Linked DNA regions of Homo sapiens. The protein of the gene in region 3 interacts with the protein of the main gene of each other region in a pairwise test. Each region holds a gene or a part of one and is shown on either strand. Other genes may lie near its edges.

Region 1 (3,500 bases), on a different chromosome or scaffold from region 3:
ACATTTTCCATTGGCTGTTCACTCACTGGCCCAGCTCCCAAATTCACTCTCCCTCCCCCTTGACCTTTCTCCCATTGAAACCCTGTCCCATTGGTCCTCACCATTAGCCCATCTTCCCATGGCCCCTCACCAATTTTCCCACTCCCCATCCTTTGGCACACTTCCCCAAGTAGCCAGTAGCCTGCTCCCCACCAGCCTCCCACTACTGACCATCTGCTGTCTTGCCCCAGCCCAGGATGTGGCAGCTGGTGGTGTTGGCTGAGCAGTCCCTCTCCAGGGGAAGGGGCTGGATGAGTTCAGAGAGTTTGGCTGGGCGTGCCAGGCGCAACAGCATGATGTCCTGGTCATGGCTGGCGGCATCATAGTCAGGGTGGATCACAGCCCGGACAACAGAACTCTGCTCCTGGGAACTCTCCCTTTGCCGAAGGTTATGCTTCCCCAGGAAGACCTGAAGATTCCTGGGAAGGAAGAGGGCTGGGTCTCACCTGGAGCCCTTGGGCTGCAGTTGAGGCTTCAGAGAGGGCTGGGAAGTCATGAATCGCTGGCCTGCTCCTCCCACAGTCTTCCCCAGCTGGGTAAATGGCAATTCCATCCTTTCAGAATAATCTTGGGGGCTATTCTTCACTCTCTTTATTTCATGCCCTACATCCAAGCTGTCCAGAATTCCTTTTGCCTCTCTGAAGCATATCCAGAATCTGGCCACATCTCACCTTTCCCACGGCTACCATCTTGGTTTGAGCTGCCTTTTCACTTCCTACCTGAACTAGAGCAGTAGCCTCCTCACTGGGCTCCCTGCTCTGTCTCTGGTCCCCCACAGTCCATCCTCCACAAAGCAACCAGAGATATTTTAACAATGTAAGTTGGTCCTGTGCCTCCTCTGCTCAGCCCCTCCTATGACTCCCATCTCACTCAGAATCAAAGCCAAAGTTCTCAACGTGGCACACCAGGCCTTGCAAGCACTGCCCCATCATCTCACAGACATCTTCTCCTCCCACTCTCCCCTTCTCTCCCTCTGCTCCAGCCAAACGCTGGCTTCCCTGTCTTGCCTTGAACACAATAGTGATCTTCCCACCTCAGGGCCTTTGCACTGCTGTTCCCTCTGCCAGCAAGTCTGTCCTCCAAGTATCTGCATAGCTCACTCCCTCACTTCCTTTAAATGTCGCCTCTCAGGGAAGCCTTCCTTAGTTGCCCAATTAAAATACAAATACCTGTTAGTAGGCAATTCCTATCTCCCTCCCCTGCTTTCTGTTCCACCAGAGAACCTATCACAATCATCCGACCTGCTATATATTTATTGTTAAATATTTACTCATTGTGTTATTTCTCCTCCTTGCAGAGCAATGCTGTCCACTAAATGCTACGATGCCATGATCTCGATCTGCACTGTCCAGAGGTGGCTGGGGGAACCACAAGCTACAGGTGGCTGCTGAGTACTTGAAATGTGGCTTGTGGATTTTCCATTTCATTAATTTCAATGTAATTTGCTATATGTGGCTGATGGCTACCATATTAGACAGTGCAGCTCTAGGATGTCAAGATGGGGATTTTTGTTCTATTCAGATATAGTATCTCCAGTGCGTTGATCAGCACCTGGCACAGGATAGGTGTTTGATACATATTCCTGAAACAGAGAGTCACTCCCTTGCTCAGACATCACCCATGGCTCCCCATTGTCCTAAGAATAAAGCCTGGGCTCCTCCACTTGGCACTGGAGCCCCTGTGTGATCTGGCTGTAGTCACTTTCCAACCTTATCTCCCAGCACCTTCTGCCCCCCAGTGAACGGGAAATTTTATTTTCTGAGAATACTCAAGACGGTTCTCACCTCAGGGGTGTTATCACAGCCTTTCCTCTGCCCTGAACATTCCTTTTCCCATCTTCATGCCTCCGCTTGGATTTTATCTCATTAGAAAGTCCTTCCTGACCCTCCTCCATCTAAAGTAGGTACCCGTATTCTTTTCCTTCATAATTTGTAATTATATGGGGTTTTGAAGGGTTTGCTTCTTTTGTTTGTTTGTTTTTTTGAGACAGGGTCTCGCTCTGTCACCCAGGCTGGATCTGCAGTGGTGTTCTGTAGATCACAGCTCACTGCAGCTTTGTACTCCTGGGCTCGAGTGATCCACCCGCCTCGGCCTCCCAAAGTGCTGGGATTACAGGCATGAGCCACCACGGCCAGCCCAATTTGCTGCTTCTTTCTTTCCTTTTTTTTTTTTTAGACAGAGTCTCGCTCTGTGGTTCAGGCTGGAGTGCAGTGGCGCGATCTCGGCTCACTGCAACCTCCGCCTCCCACGTTCAAGCAATTCTCCTGCCTTAGCCTCCCAAGTTGCTGGAATTACAGAAGCCCACCACCACGCCTGGCTAATTTTTTGTATTTTCAGTAGAGACAGGGTTGAGCCATGTTGGCCAAGCTGGTCTCGAACTCAGGTAATCCACCCACCTCGGCCTCCCAAAGTGCTGGGATTACAGGCGTGAGCCACCATGCCCAGCCCTCACTTTGCTTGTCTGCACCTTTCTGTCCTTGTGCTCCCGAGGGCAGGGATGACGTGTGTGTCCCATCCATTGCTGAATCTCCACTGCCCAACTCGAATGTGGCACTTAGCAGGTGCTCTTAGTCAATGTACATCAAAGGAATGAATGATGGTGGTGAGAGTCATCCAAGGTCTCCTTGGGGTCAGGGGAACCACCCCAGGGATTGTCACTTGCTATTTCCCTGCACCTCAGTTTCCTCATTTGCAAAATGGTGCCAAGAGTCCCTTGTGGTGGGCATTCCAGGAAAGGTGTGTACATGGTTTCACTCAGCACCTGATTGGTAGTTAGCATCAAACAAGTGGCAGCTGTCGTGAATCTGACTAGTGAGGATCAGCGCCCAGGGTTTTTGTCCTGGGCCCTCCAGCTCCTCCAACTATGCCAGCTTTTTGGATGATCTCATCTAGTCCCATGGCTTTAAATACACCTGTTTGCTGACGATGCCTTCATTTTAACCTCCAGCCCTGACCTCTCCTCTGAGCTCCAGAGTCCTCCCTGGCCTCCCTGCTGGGACATCTCCCCGGCATCTCCAACTCATCGTGGCTAAAGCAAAATGTCAGATGCTCCCCTGCCTACACCCGGCCTGTTTCTCTTTCCCTCTCCCACAACTCAGAGAAAGACGTGGCAAAACACCCAGTTGTTCAGGACAAATACACGGAAGCCAGCCGTGCTTCTTCCTCTCCCTCCTGTTCCTCGTTGCCAGATTCTGCTGGCTCAGTCTCAGAATTCCACATCCCAAGATATTCAACATCCCTCCATCCCCACTGCGACCGCCTGGGTTCAAGCCACCCTCCTATGTCGCCGGATGAAAGCAACAGCCCCCACGTGGGCCTCCCTCCCTCTCTCTTGCCCAGACCACGTTCCACGTGGTAGCCAGGGTGCTTGTAAAAATGTAAATCAGGCTGGGTGTGGTGGTGGCTCATGCCTGTAATCCCAGCTCTTTGGGAGGGCGAGGCGGGCGGATCACCTGAGGTCA
Region 2 (3,500 bases), on a different chromosome or scaffold from region 3:
ACCTCCCTTGCTATAGAAGCCCTTCAAGATGCCCCCCCCAATGGTCCTTGCCCTCTGCTCATCACACTTACACGTGGTCACCTCCCACGTTAACATTAACCAACAAAATACTCCATCAGGTAATAAAAGACAATGCAGCTTTTATCCTGATCACTCTCTCTCCTGTCTGGGATCCCTCATTCTGGGGAATGCCAGCAGTCATAGCATAAGCAGCCCTGTGGAAGGTACCCAGGATGAGGAACTAAGGCCTCCAGCCCATAGCCACAGGAGTGAGCTTGGAAGCAGATTCCCCAGACTCAGTCAAGCCTTCAGATAACCGCAACCCTGACCAACAATTTATCTGCAATCTAATGAGACCCGGTGCCAGCACCACCCAACTCAGCCACTCCTGCATTCCTGACCCTCAGAAACTTCAGGATAATAAATCTGTGTTATCTTAAGCCAGTAAGTTTTAGGTAAATTGTTATGCAGCAATAGGTAACAAATATACCACGCAACCAAACTTCAAAAGTCTCTGCCTGATTCTTGTTTTGATAATATGGAAAACATTATCATCTTTCTAAATAAACCAGCCAAGCACAGCCAAACTGAATTACTGCCTGTAGGTCTCACTATTTACACAGAGTGACTGTTCACAACCTGGGGGACACAGCCCCTGGGAGGTGCATGGGTGGGTGTTAGGAGGCTCATCAACTACCTCCAATTGTGTGCAAATGTGTGCTTTTTCTGGAGAGAAGGCCCACAGATTTCCTTACTGAACCCAAAAAGTTTCAGGACTATTGTGATGAAGGGTGGGGCTGTGGGACAGCCTAAAGAGGTCAGATCTTTTCAACCCGGGGAGATGAAGGTTGACGGAGAAGGATCTAAATTTGGAAAGTCACCACGGAACAGCCAGTGACCACAGTGCCAAACCCCAACATGCTAAAAACAGTGGGACCTTGACCTCAAGGCCACTCATCAGTGGATGGTGGTGCTCCCTGGAAACATGCGGCACCATCAGTCAGCCAGCCCCCTGGCCCTCAACCTGGAAATGACTCAGAGAGAAAGTGGAGGGTGCAGGAGAAGGAGGGGCTGCCCACCCTCGTCAGGAAAATTACTGGGAGCCACGAAGCATAGAGTCCCTGATGAACTTCTGTGCTCATCAGAGAGCATGCTGAGCCATCTTCCTACCCGAATCTCAAGCATCTCCAAGTTCAGTTCAAGTTCCCATCCAATGAGACATGTGTCGAGAACCTGTGCCAGGTGCTGGGCTGACAGAGTAAGTAAGAAATCATCCTTGCTGTCCCAAACAGCAAAGGTTGCTGGGGCCCACATAGCTGGACTCCAGTGATATCAGTAAGCACCAAGAGGAAGGGCTGCCCAGGAGAGGTCAAGGAGTCTGAAGGAAGTGACCACTGAACTGAGCCTGCCAGGCCAAGGACAGGCAGTGGGGTACTCCAGGTAAGAGAACAGCGTGTCCCAGGACACGAGGGTGTGAGAAATCCGTGCCTTCTGGGCATGGCCCATTACAGAAACCAGAGTGTGGGGCTAGAGAGGCCAGGTGGCTGGGTCTGTCGTGCCAGAATGGAGGGCTGGCCTGCTGTGCTGACAAGCTGGGCCCTGTCCTGAGGGTGTCAGGAGGGGTGTGACAGCACCCAAGGCCAGTAAACAGCTTGGAAGTGGTTCAGGTGAAAGCTGATGAGGCCTGAGCTAGGCGGGTGCAGTGGGGATGAGGGAAGGATAGGCTGGGGATCTCCTGAGTGGACTCAACAGGACTTGTTTCTGGGGTGTTGAAAATGTTCTAGAATGAATCCCAGCACTTCGGGAGGCCAAGACAGGTGGATCACTTAAGGTCAGGAGTTTGAGAATAGCCTGGCCAACATGGCAAAACCTTGTCTCTACTAAAAATACAAAAATTAGCCGGGCATGGTGGTTCGTGCCTGTAATTGCAGCTACTCAGGAGGGTGAGGCAGGAGAATTGCTTGAATCTGGGAGGTGAAGGTTGCAGTGAGCTGAGATCCAACCACTGCACTCCAGCCTGGGCAACAAGAGTGAGACTCTGTCAAAAAAAAAAAAAAAAGAAAAAGAAAGAATATGTTCTAGAATTAGACAATGGTGATGGTTGCACAACACCGTGAATGTACTAAATGTCATTAATAATAAATGTTATATTATTTGTATTTTACCACAATTTAAAAAAAGACTTTGTTTGATTGGATATGGGGTTGAAAGAATGGAAGATAAACTTCCTGGATTAGATTCCCAGGAGGATGTGTGTGCCACCAAACTAAAATAGAAAATGCCACACGCAGCTGGGTGTGGTGGCTCATATCTGTTATCCCAGCACTTTCGGAGGCCGAGGCAGGAGGATGGCTTCAGCCCAGGAGTTTGAGACCAGCCTGGGCAACAAAATGAGACCCCAGTCTCTACAAAAACAAACAAACAAACAGAAAAAGATAAGGAAGGAAGACAAAGTGATGGTGGTGCAGCTGCGTGTGAGGGGCCAGTAGGAGGACTGGGAGGAGACATCAAAGGTCAGCCTGTGTTAACTGGAGGCTCAGGGCAGAGGCCAGGGCTGGACTGTGAAGGTGGGAGGAGTGTGAACTTAGGGGAGGAGGGGGGAATGTGGAGGTGTTGAGAGGGGAGCTGGTCTCCAGGGAGGATAAGACCAGGAGCCCGCAGAGACCAGGACAGGGTTCAGACTCCAGGAGAAGACAAAGTAAGTCCAAAGTCAGCCATGGGGGAGAAGGAAGAGGGTTTGTTAGAGAGTGAGGAGACAAAGCAGGGAAGAGGATGGAAAAGGTCAAGGAGCGAGGCTTTGGGGCACGATCAAAAGTCAAAGGCAGGAAAGGGGTACAGGGAGCCGAGGGCTGGAAGTGTCCGTTGCATTTGGCATCAGGTGGTCCTTGGTGACCCCTCAGCAAGAGGAGACCCAACAGCCGGAGAAGTGGGGCCTGAGGCCAGGCTGCTGGGAGGCGAGGCGTGTCTGAGAGGTGAGGTGGGTAGGCACAGATTATAAACTAACTTTCAGAGAGGTTCGACTGAGAAAGGAAACTAGAAAGGCCAGATAGGGGGACACCAGATAAACGGTGGGGGTGGGTGTCTGCTTGTGATTTTTCTTTTTCCTAAAAAAAGAGTTCCCATTCACTGAGAGAACAGAGCCAGAAGCAGAAATAGAGATTCTAGAAGTGGTGGTAGGGGAGAGGGACTTGAATGCACGTAGGCGTGGGGTCCTGGGGGTGAGGAAGGGTCTCAGCCTAAGTGCCTGGCTGGCCCCCATCAGCTGAGGAGCAGGGTGCATGTGTCCTCCGAGGCCGGGAGGGAAACCGAGAGGATGGGTGGAGAGGCTGATAAGCCTGCAGCCAGGCCCAGGCGGGAAGTTGAGGGAGTTCCCTCCAGATGACTGTTTTCTAGGTGAAGATGGAGCAGCCGTCACCTCCTGAGGTGAGGCAGCTGCAGTGAGGTGCGGGCTGGAGGGGAACAAAGAGGCCTGAGATGGAAGGAAGGGAAAGGGCCGAGGC
Region 3 (3,500 bases):
AAATAGTTGTGCCCCCTCCCCATCATGCCAAAGGTCTAAAGTTAAAAACAGGCAGAAGACAGACATAACTTGGAAAATCAATTCAACAGTGCACAAAATCCAATACAAATTTCTTAAAACTAGTTTTCAAAGTTCATTTTAGATGCTGCAATTCTCTTAAGTACAGTTAAATAAAATCTTTTTTTTTTTTTTTGACATGAATAACCTGAAAATAACTTCAGGATACTTCTCTTGATTTTAACTCAAAATATGGTGTCAATTTAGATGAGCGGAAAGGGAAACATACATACACAAGAGTCCCACAGTGCCCCAATAATGCAGGGCATTCAACTTAAAGTTCACACACAGGGTAAAATTTATAATGGAAACAGGTTTATAATGACAATGCATATGAAAGTCCTTGTTACCTTAGGGAAAGCCAGGGAAAACAAAAAACAAAAAAATAGAAAACACAAGAGCTTCATGACATGGTAAATAAATTTTTATTTGATGAAAATTACTATTGGTAGGAGAAATGAATGAGGTACTTTTAGGTAGTTAAATAGAAAAACAAATCTAGAAAATACCTGGTAACTTGTGTTGGAACACATTTTCCATGATACGTTTAATTTCCAGCCTCTGTTCCAAGTTCTCATTGTGTAAGCCAAATTCCTGTACCACTTTGTCAATGGCAATGCCAACTGCATTTATCTGGGAGGGTGTTGGTGGGGGTAACGTAGTGAGCAACTCTTCCTCTTGCTTCTCCTTTTAAGATCAAATGTTGAGATTAAAAATGACTTACACATAGTTTTGACCTTCTACCACTCATGAAGACAACACCCTATAGAGTTTTCTTTTTCTTAGCCCTCCCTTCTCATTTTAGCTGTGTTAGTTTTCATCCTATCAAACATATACATACTTCCTTATGCACATAATGTGGATCAGTGGTAACAGAGGATAGGTGGGCATAAGGAGAAAGTGTAAGGAAAGAATATTAAAAACAGCACTTACAAACATTGTTTGCTTTAATACTAGTATAAGGACATATACCTGGGTCCTATCAATGACTTCATATAACCTGATGCTGCCCTTAAGGAAATTCACAAGATTAACCAGTAAAATACATCTGACCAGTATTATGTATTTTGGCTCAAATATATTCAATAAATAAAGCAGTAAAGTTATCAATATCATAGCCTTAAGGAGAAGAAAGCCACAAAGATGACAAGTAATAACAACTAACAAGTAAGCAGACTTGTTTGGGTTACATTCAATTTACCTTAATGTTTTTCTTGTGCCTCTTTTCCTTGATATGCTTATGGGCAAATGCAATGGATTCAATTAAAACATCACAGAGTCTGCAGGTGTACTTTGCTGTAGGGTAGTTTCGTGGTCGCTATAATTTGAAGAGATTTATTTAGAGAGAGACATAAGTAAAACCAAACATTCAGATAAACAAAATCAGCCAGGAAATGATTTCCCCTTCAATTTCTTTTCTCTAAAGAGACAGGAGTCTCACTATGTTGCCCTGGCTGGAGTGAACTGGCTATTCACAGATACCATTATAGCATACTACAGCCCCAAACTCCTGAGTTCAAGCAATCCTCCTGCCTCAACCTCACAAGTAACTGGGGCTACAGGCATGCCACTGTGCCTGGCTTCTTCTTCACTTTTAAAATTGCTACTGTTATTGTTCCCTTTATCACTACCCTAACAGTCATTTTAAGTATAATAGCAATGACTCCTAATCCTATTAAATCACACTGGACATCACTTTTAACTTGTAGTGCTTAAATACTGATAACCAAAGTAGGATATCTAATTGATCAGAGCATGCATACTCAATTAACAACAAAATTGAGGCTAAAACCAGGATTCTAACCAACAAATATATATATAAGGATGTTACCCTTTTTAGCCTGTCAATGCAGTCTCTCTTCAGTCTCTCCTCAGCCTGCTGTAAGCCTAGCAGCTCCTTCGTTGAAAGTACAGACTCATCGATCACAGGGCCTTCCAAGTCTCCATCCTGCTCATTTTCCTCATTTCTAGTCTTCCGTGGCTTCCTAGGTCTGGACCTCTGCTTCTTGTTTTCTTAAGGTGGGGGAAAAATATTATTGGCAATATTAAATAATGCCACTCCTGAGTAAAAAGCAGACCTTACATATGTATTAAATCATGTGAGAGAATAAATCACATCTGCATGCAGAGCAGAAGGAAAGGTAGCTGTCCTATGGACAAAATGCTTTAATACTGTATTCAGTGAGCACATCACCTGTAGACATTAAGCCATAGAAATCATCTTTTTGGAAAATTTAAAAGAATTCTACTTCAATCATACAATTTGATTTTTATTATCTCTTCCTGGTATACTGCTGAGCATAGCAAAGCAACAGAAAAATTATACTCTGAAGGCAAGTATATCTATAATTCTATTATATTAAAATATTACAATACATATTGTAAATATATCTTACATATTCTATAATATCTGTAAGTACACCTGTTATTCTCATTAAAACCAGCCACATTTGCTTTCATCTTCTATAAGTGAACAATCTCAATAAGGCAAAATGCAAAATGTACCCCTGGACAACTCAGAAATCAACTATATACTCATCTGGAGTGAAAAATCATCATTTAGTTGCAAATTTAGCCATCAATAACACCTAAGCCGGGTCCCTCCGTTAATATGAAGAAGTCCAAGCCAAAATTTTATTTACTAAGGACAACTATCTCTCATTTTACCTTTACCTTCATTTTAGCTTCTTTGAATGGCCTGTACACTGAGCATATTTCAAAGGAAAAAAACAACTGGCCATTGAAACAAAAGTTTTCTCTAAGTACATTTGTTTATAAACTCTGCTATTAGTTCTATAATCCTTATAATGAATAAAAATCATCCTGTTCCTTTTTAAAACTTATAACTTTTCAACTTGTTAAAGTGATTGTGGGATTAAACCATAAAAAATTGTTTTAGATAGCTTTGATAACTTATATCGAGTTTTAAAAAATGAAACTATTAGTAACACATTAGTGCTTGGAAACATAAACCTACTGAAAAGCCCTACATGAAGTAATTCCTCCATCAAGTTTTCAGAGGAACTCATTACTACTAGTATGGCAATTACAATGAACTGGCAGGCTGAAAAGGAAATATAGGACCTCCAATTTTATAAAAAGCTTGCTGAGAGCGCTAAAGGATAAGCAGCAAGCATTGTGCTAAAACTACCTGAGATGACTATCTCAAAATTCTGCAAACACCTTCCACAATATAAGAAAATTAAAAAATTAAAAAAAATTAAAGTGTTGGAAAAGTAGTTTTAAAAAATCAATCAAAATACACTGAACAAATAAAATACTAAAAGGTAAGTTGTCATTTCAACAGAAAATCAGGCTACCTTGCGCTACCTTAATATTTCCTTTTTAATACTCCCCCGACTCCCAATTAAATTATCATAATCTTTTAAGGCCAGTATTTCTGGTCTGAACAATTTTTTTTTTTCAGATAAGCACTTCTTTTA
Region 4 (3,500 bases), on a different chromosome or scaffold from region 3:
CCAGATTTATAACTTTAAATACTACCCTTAGTAACTGATGAATCCCCAATTTGTGTTTCCAGCCCTAACCTATTCCCTATATTCCAGGTTCGTATCTACCTATCAGCATCATACCATGGATGTCTTAACAGGCATCTCAAACTTACTATGTCTAAAACAAAATTTGACTTTTCTTCCCCAAACTTGCCCTACCACAAATCTTCTCTATTTTCGGTAAAGGAACCTCAGAGATGCTCAAGCCAAAAAGCTGAAAATCACTCATAAATCCTTAGTCCCACATATCTACTAAATTCTAATCTCCACATAGCAACTATGGCAGTATTTTAAGATTGCTCATTCCATTCCCTACTGAAAACATTCCAACAGTTTTTATTATATTTAAGATTCAGCCCAGATTACTTATCTGGGCCCTTATCTCCTCTGACCCCTTCCACTGCTTTCTTGCTTGAGCACCTCACTGCAGCCATACTGTTACCTTACTTTTCTTCCAGGACCCTGATACATCCTCTTTCCCCTCCCTGGAACATTGTTCCTTCAGCTCTTTACATGGTTCCCTCTAGCTCTTCATTCAGGTCATGGCTCAAATGTTACCACCTCTAAGCGGCCTCTCCTCACTAAATTTACTCCCTATCTATCCCCTAACACCTGCTACATTTTATTGTGTAGCCTTTTTATCACTCACATATTACACTAGTCATCTGTCTCCATCACTAGAAGATATATGAGAACTTTATCTTGTTCATAATTGTATTCATAACCTAAAATAATGCCTGACACACAGCAGGCACTCAAAAAAATTTGTGAAAAAAATTACTGTTGAGTATTTAATGTAATGTGACATAACAAAGTAGACAAAGCAGGTATCAATTTGTGTGGCAGGAGAGTAATACTAGATTAATATGAACCATAGATCCCACAGTTCACAAGAAGCAAAGCAGAAGATTCTAAACGCCAAAGTGGCCGGGCGTGGTGGCTCAAGCCTGTAATCCCAGCACTTTGGGAGGCCAAGGCAGGCAGATCACTTGAGGTCAGGAGTTCGAGACCACCCTGGCCAACATGGTAAAACCCCGTCTCTACTAAAAATACAAAAATTAGCTGGGCATGGTGGTGGCACGTTCTTATAGTCCCAGCTGCTCGGGAGACTGAGGCAGGAGAATCGCTTGAGCCTGGGAGGCAGAAGTTGCAGTGAGTCGAGATCACACCACTGCACTATAGCCTAAGTGACAGAGCAAGACTCCATCTCGGGTGAGGGGAGGAGTGGGGGGGAGGAAGCCCAACACCAAAGTTATGACTATAGAATTCAAAACATCTAATCAGAAGAGAGGGGCCATCTAAAGAACCCAAGTGGATTTCACAAGGAAATCTGCACTTGAGATATTCTTTAGAGTACCCAAAAGGTGAAAGAAGTTATGGGCTGAAGTACAAACCTAAGAATAGCATGAATTTATTTTAAAATACCTGAATCCTAAAAAGCAGATGAAGCTTGTGGAAAATATTATGAAATTTGTACTTTTTGGGGGGACAGTGTCTATTTAAAGCAAGAATAAGTAAGGGATAGGAGCACTAGCTAAGAAAGATACTGTAATGATAGATGACTAAAGGTTTTACTTCAGTTGCCTCCATAAAGGAGAATGATTTTTCACCAGGGAAATGATTTACCTCCTAAAAAAAGGGGTATACCCAAGAAAGTGAGGAATTAGGAAGAAAATGCCAACACTCTTTAAGCAAATTCAATTCTATAGGCTCAGGTTGTTAAGAACAGTATACGTTTCTTAGAAAAGAAAGTAATGGTCAACAGGGGCCAGCTAGCATTTACTAAACTTAAGTTATCCTGAACTGACCTCATTTTCTCATTAAGTAGGGTATTATTAGTAGTTTTAGAGAGCAAACTCTAGAACCACTCATACCCTCTTAGTAATTCTACTTCAGGGAATTGTTATTTATAATAAAGCTTAAGAAAAATATTTTAAAACGGGAGTAAGAGCACATCACAGCTGTTTTAAAACATTAGAATACCGTATGGACATCAAAAACTCCAAATGTGCTGAGGGAAGAAAAAATTTATATACATAAACAAAAAATTTGAGGGATTATGACTAAAACCATGAGAACATTTGCTAGTATTAAGAGAGAATTTTGAGTGATTGAACACATACATGGAATAAGGGTTTGTTTAAAAGTGAAAATCCAAGTTCATAACTGAAAGGAAAGTAATTAATGTAACACAGGTATGGGACGGGAGCAACCTGGATAAATAGTGAACAGAAAAAGATCTAGGTATTATGAAGTGCAGTTAATTGTGTAATGTCTCTGAAGTAGGAGTTGATATAATTAGGCACAATTATTACAAGCATAATGTCTGGAACAAAGGAGGCAGTCCCACAATGCTCTGTGCTGCTCAGTATGTATCTCAAAATACCATGATTAGGCCGGGCACAGTGGCTCATGCCTGTAATCCCAGCACTTTGGGAGTCTGAAGCGGGCAGATCACGAGGTCAGGAGATCGGAGACCATCCTGGCTAATACAGTGAAACCCCGTCACTACTAAAAATACAAAAAATTAGCCGGGCGTGGTGGCTGGCACCTGTAATCCCAGCTACTCGGGAGGCTGAGACAGGGGAATCACTTCTACCTGGGAGGTGGAGCTTGCACTGAGCTGAGATTGTGCCACTGCGCCACTGTACTCCAGACTGGGTGACGGAGTGAGACTCCGTCTCAAAATATAAATAAATAAAAAAGACAAAAAACCATGATTAGTTTAAGCATCACATTAAAGCATTAAATAGTCACTAGCCAACTAGAAAACCCACAGAGGGAGACCAAAGCTATGTCATATGAGAAAAACAATGAAACAATTGTGGATATTCCATCTGAGAAAAAGATAAGGGGAAGACAGGGTAGCTATTTCAAGTAATTGAAGAGCTGTCATTTGGAAGAGGTACTAAAATTATCTTTTGTTGATTCAAAGGGCAGAATTGGATTTTTAGGTAGAAATTAGAGGGAGATGGTCTTTGGGTCAATCTTCTATCAGTATGAACTTTTAAATAATGGAATAGATTTCTATTTGTAGTAAAATTTCCTTCTCTATAAATATTCAGGTATCGGATGATTATCAGACAGGGTTTTAGAAAAAAAATTATTCTTGCTCTAGATGAGATTCATATAGATAATACTATCCAAAGCTCCTACCAATTCCTATGAACTTAAGGTATAAAATTTTTTAAATCAAGTTTATCTGAAAGATTAATTTAGGTGAGCCACTAAAACTTCCTATATATAAATAAAGCATACCTTGGCCCTGGTTTTGGGATTTTGCCAGCCTTGAGCTCATCAATAATTTCTTCAATATCCTTAGCTGTCAAATCCTCCTGGAAAAAAAATTAACAATAGTCATATTTAAATTACTTTCTTTTATATCGATATATTTATAGAGACAAGGTCTCACTATGTTGCCCAGGCTGGTCTCCAACTCCTGGGCTTAAGCAATCCTCCTACCTCAG

The links. The genes of interacting proteins can lie anywhere in the genome.
Region 1: the proteins of TUT7 (region 3) and KLK6 interact in binary tests that used the Homo sapiens proteins (3 or more experiments, as listed by UniProt).
Region 2: the proteins of TUT7 (region 3) and PECAM1 interact in binary tests that used the Homo sapiens proteins (3 or more experiments, as listed by UniProt).
Region 4: the proteins of TUT7 (region 3) and NDUFV2 interact in binary tests that used the Homo sapiens proteins (3 or more experiments, as listed by UniProt).

What each region holds. Positions count from the first base shown.
Region 1 is NC_000019.10:50,963,092-50,966,591, forward strand, and holds part of KLK6 (kallikrein-6 isoform A preproprotein), read right to left. Parts: intron 1,420-3,500; exon of another isoform or gene 1,337-1,419; intron 576-1,336; exon of another isoform or gene 465-575; intron 459-464; coding exon 211-458; intron 1-210. UniProt on the Homo sapiens protein: Serine protease which exhibits a preference for Arg over Lys in the substrate P1 position and for Ser or Pro in the P2 position.
Region 2 is NC_000017.11:64,384,361-64,387,860, forward strand, and holds part of PECAM1 (platelet endothelial cell adhesion molecule precursor), read right to left. Parts: intron 1-3,500. UniProt on the Homo sapiens protein: Cell adhesion molecule which is required for leukocyte transendothelial migration (TEM) under most inflammatory conditions.
Region 3 is NC_000009.12:86,344,411-86,347,910, forward strand, and holds part of TUT7 (terminal uridylyltransferase 7), read right to left. Parts: intron 2,071-3,500; coding exon 1,889-2,070; intron 1,376-1,888; coding exon 1,259-1,375; intron 745-1,258; coding exon 567-744; intron 1-566. UniProt on the Homo sapiens protein: Uridylyltransferase that mediates the terminal uridylation of mRNAs with short (less than 25 nucleotides) poly(A) tails, hence facilitating global mRNA decay. Essential for both oocyte maturation and fertility.
Region 4 is NC_000018.10:9,126,699-9,130,198, reverse strand, and holds part of NDUFV2 (NADH dehydrogenase [ubiquinone] flavoprotein 2, mitochondrial precursor), read right to left. Parts: intron 3,369-3,500; coding exon 3,292-3,368; intron 1-3,291.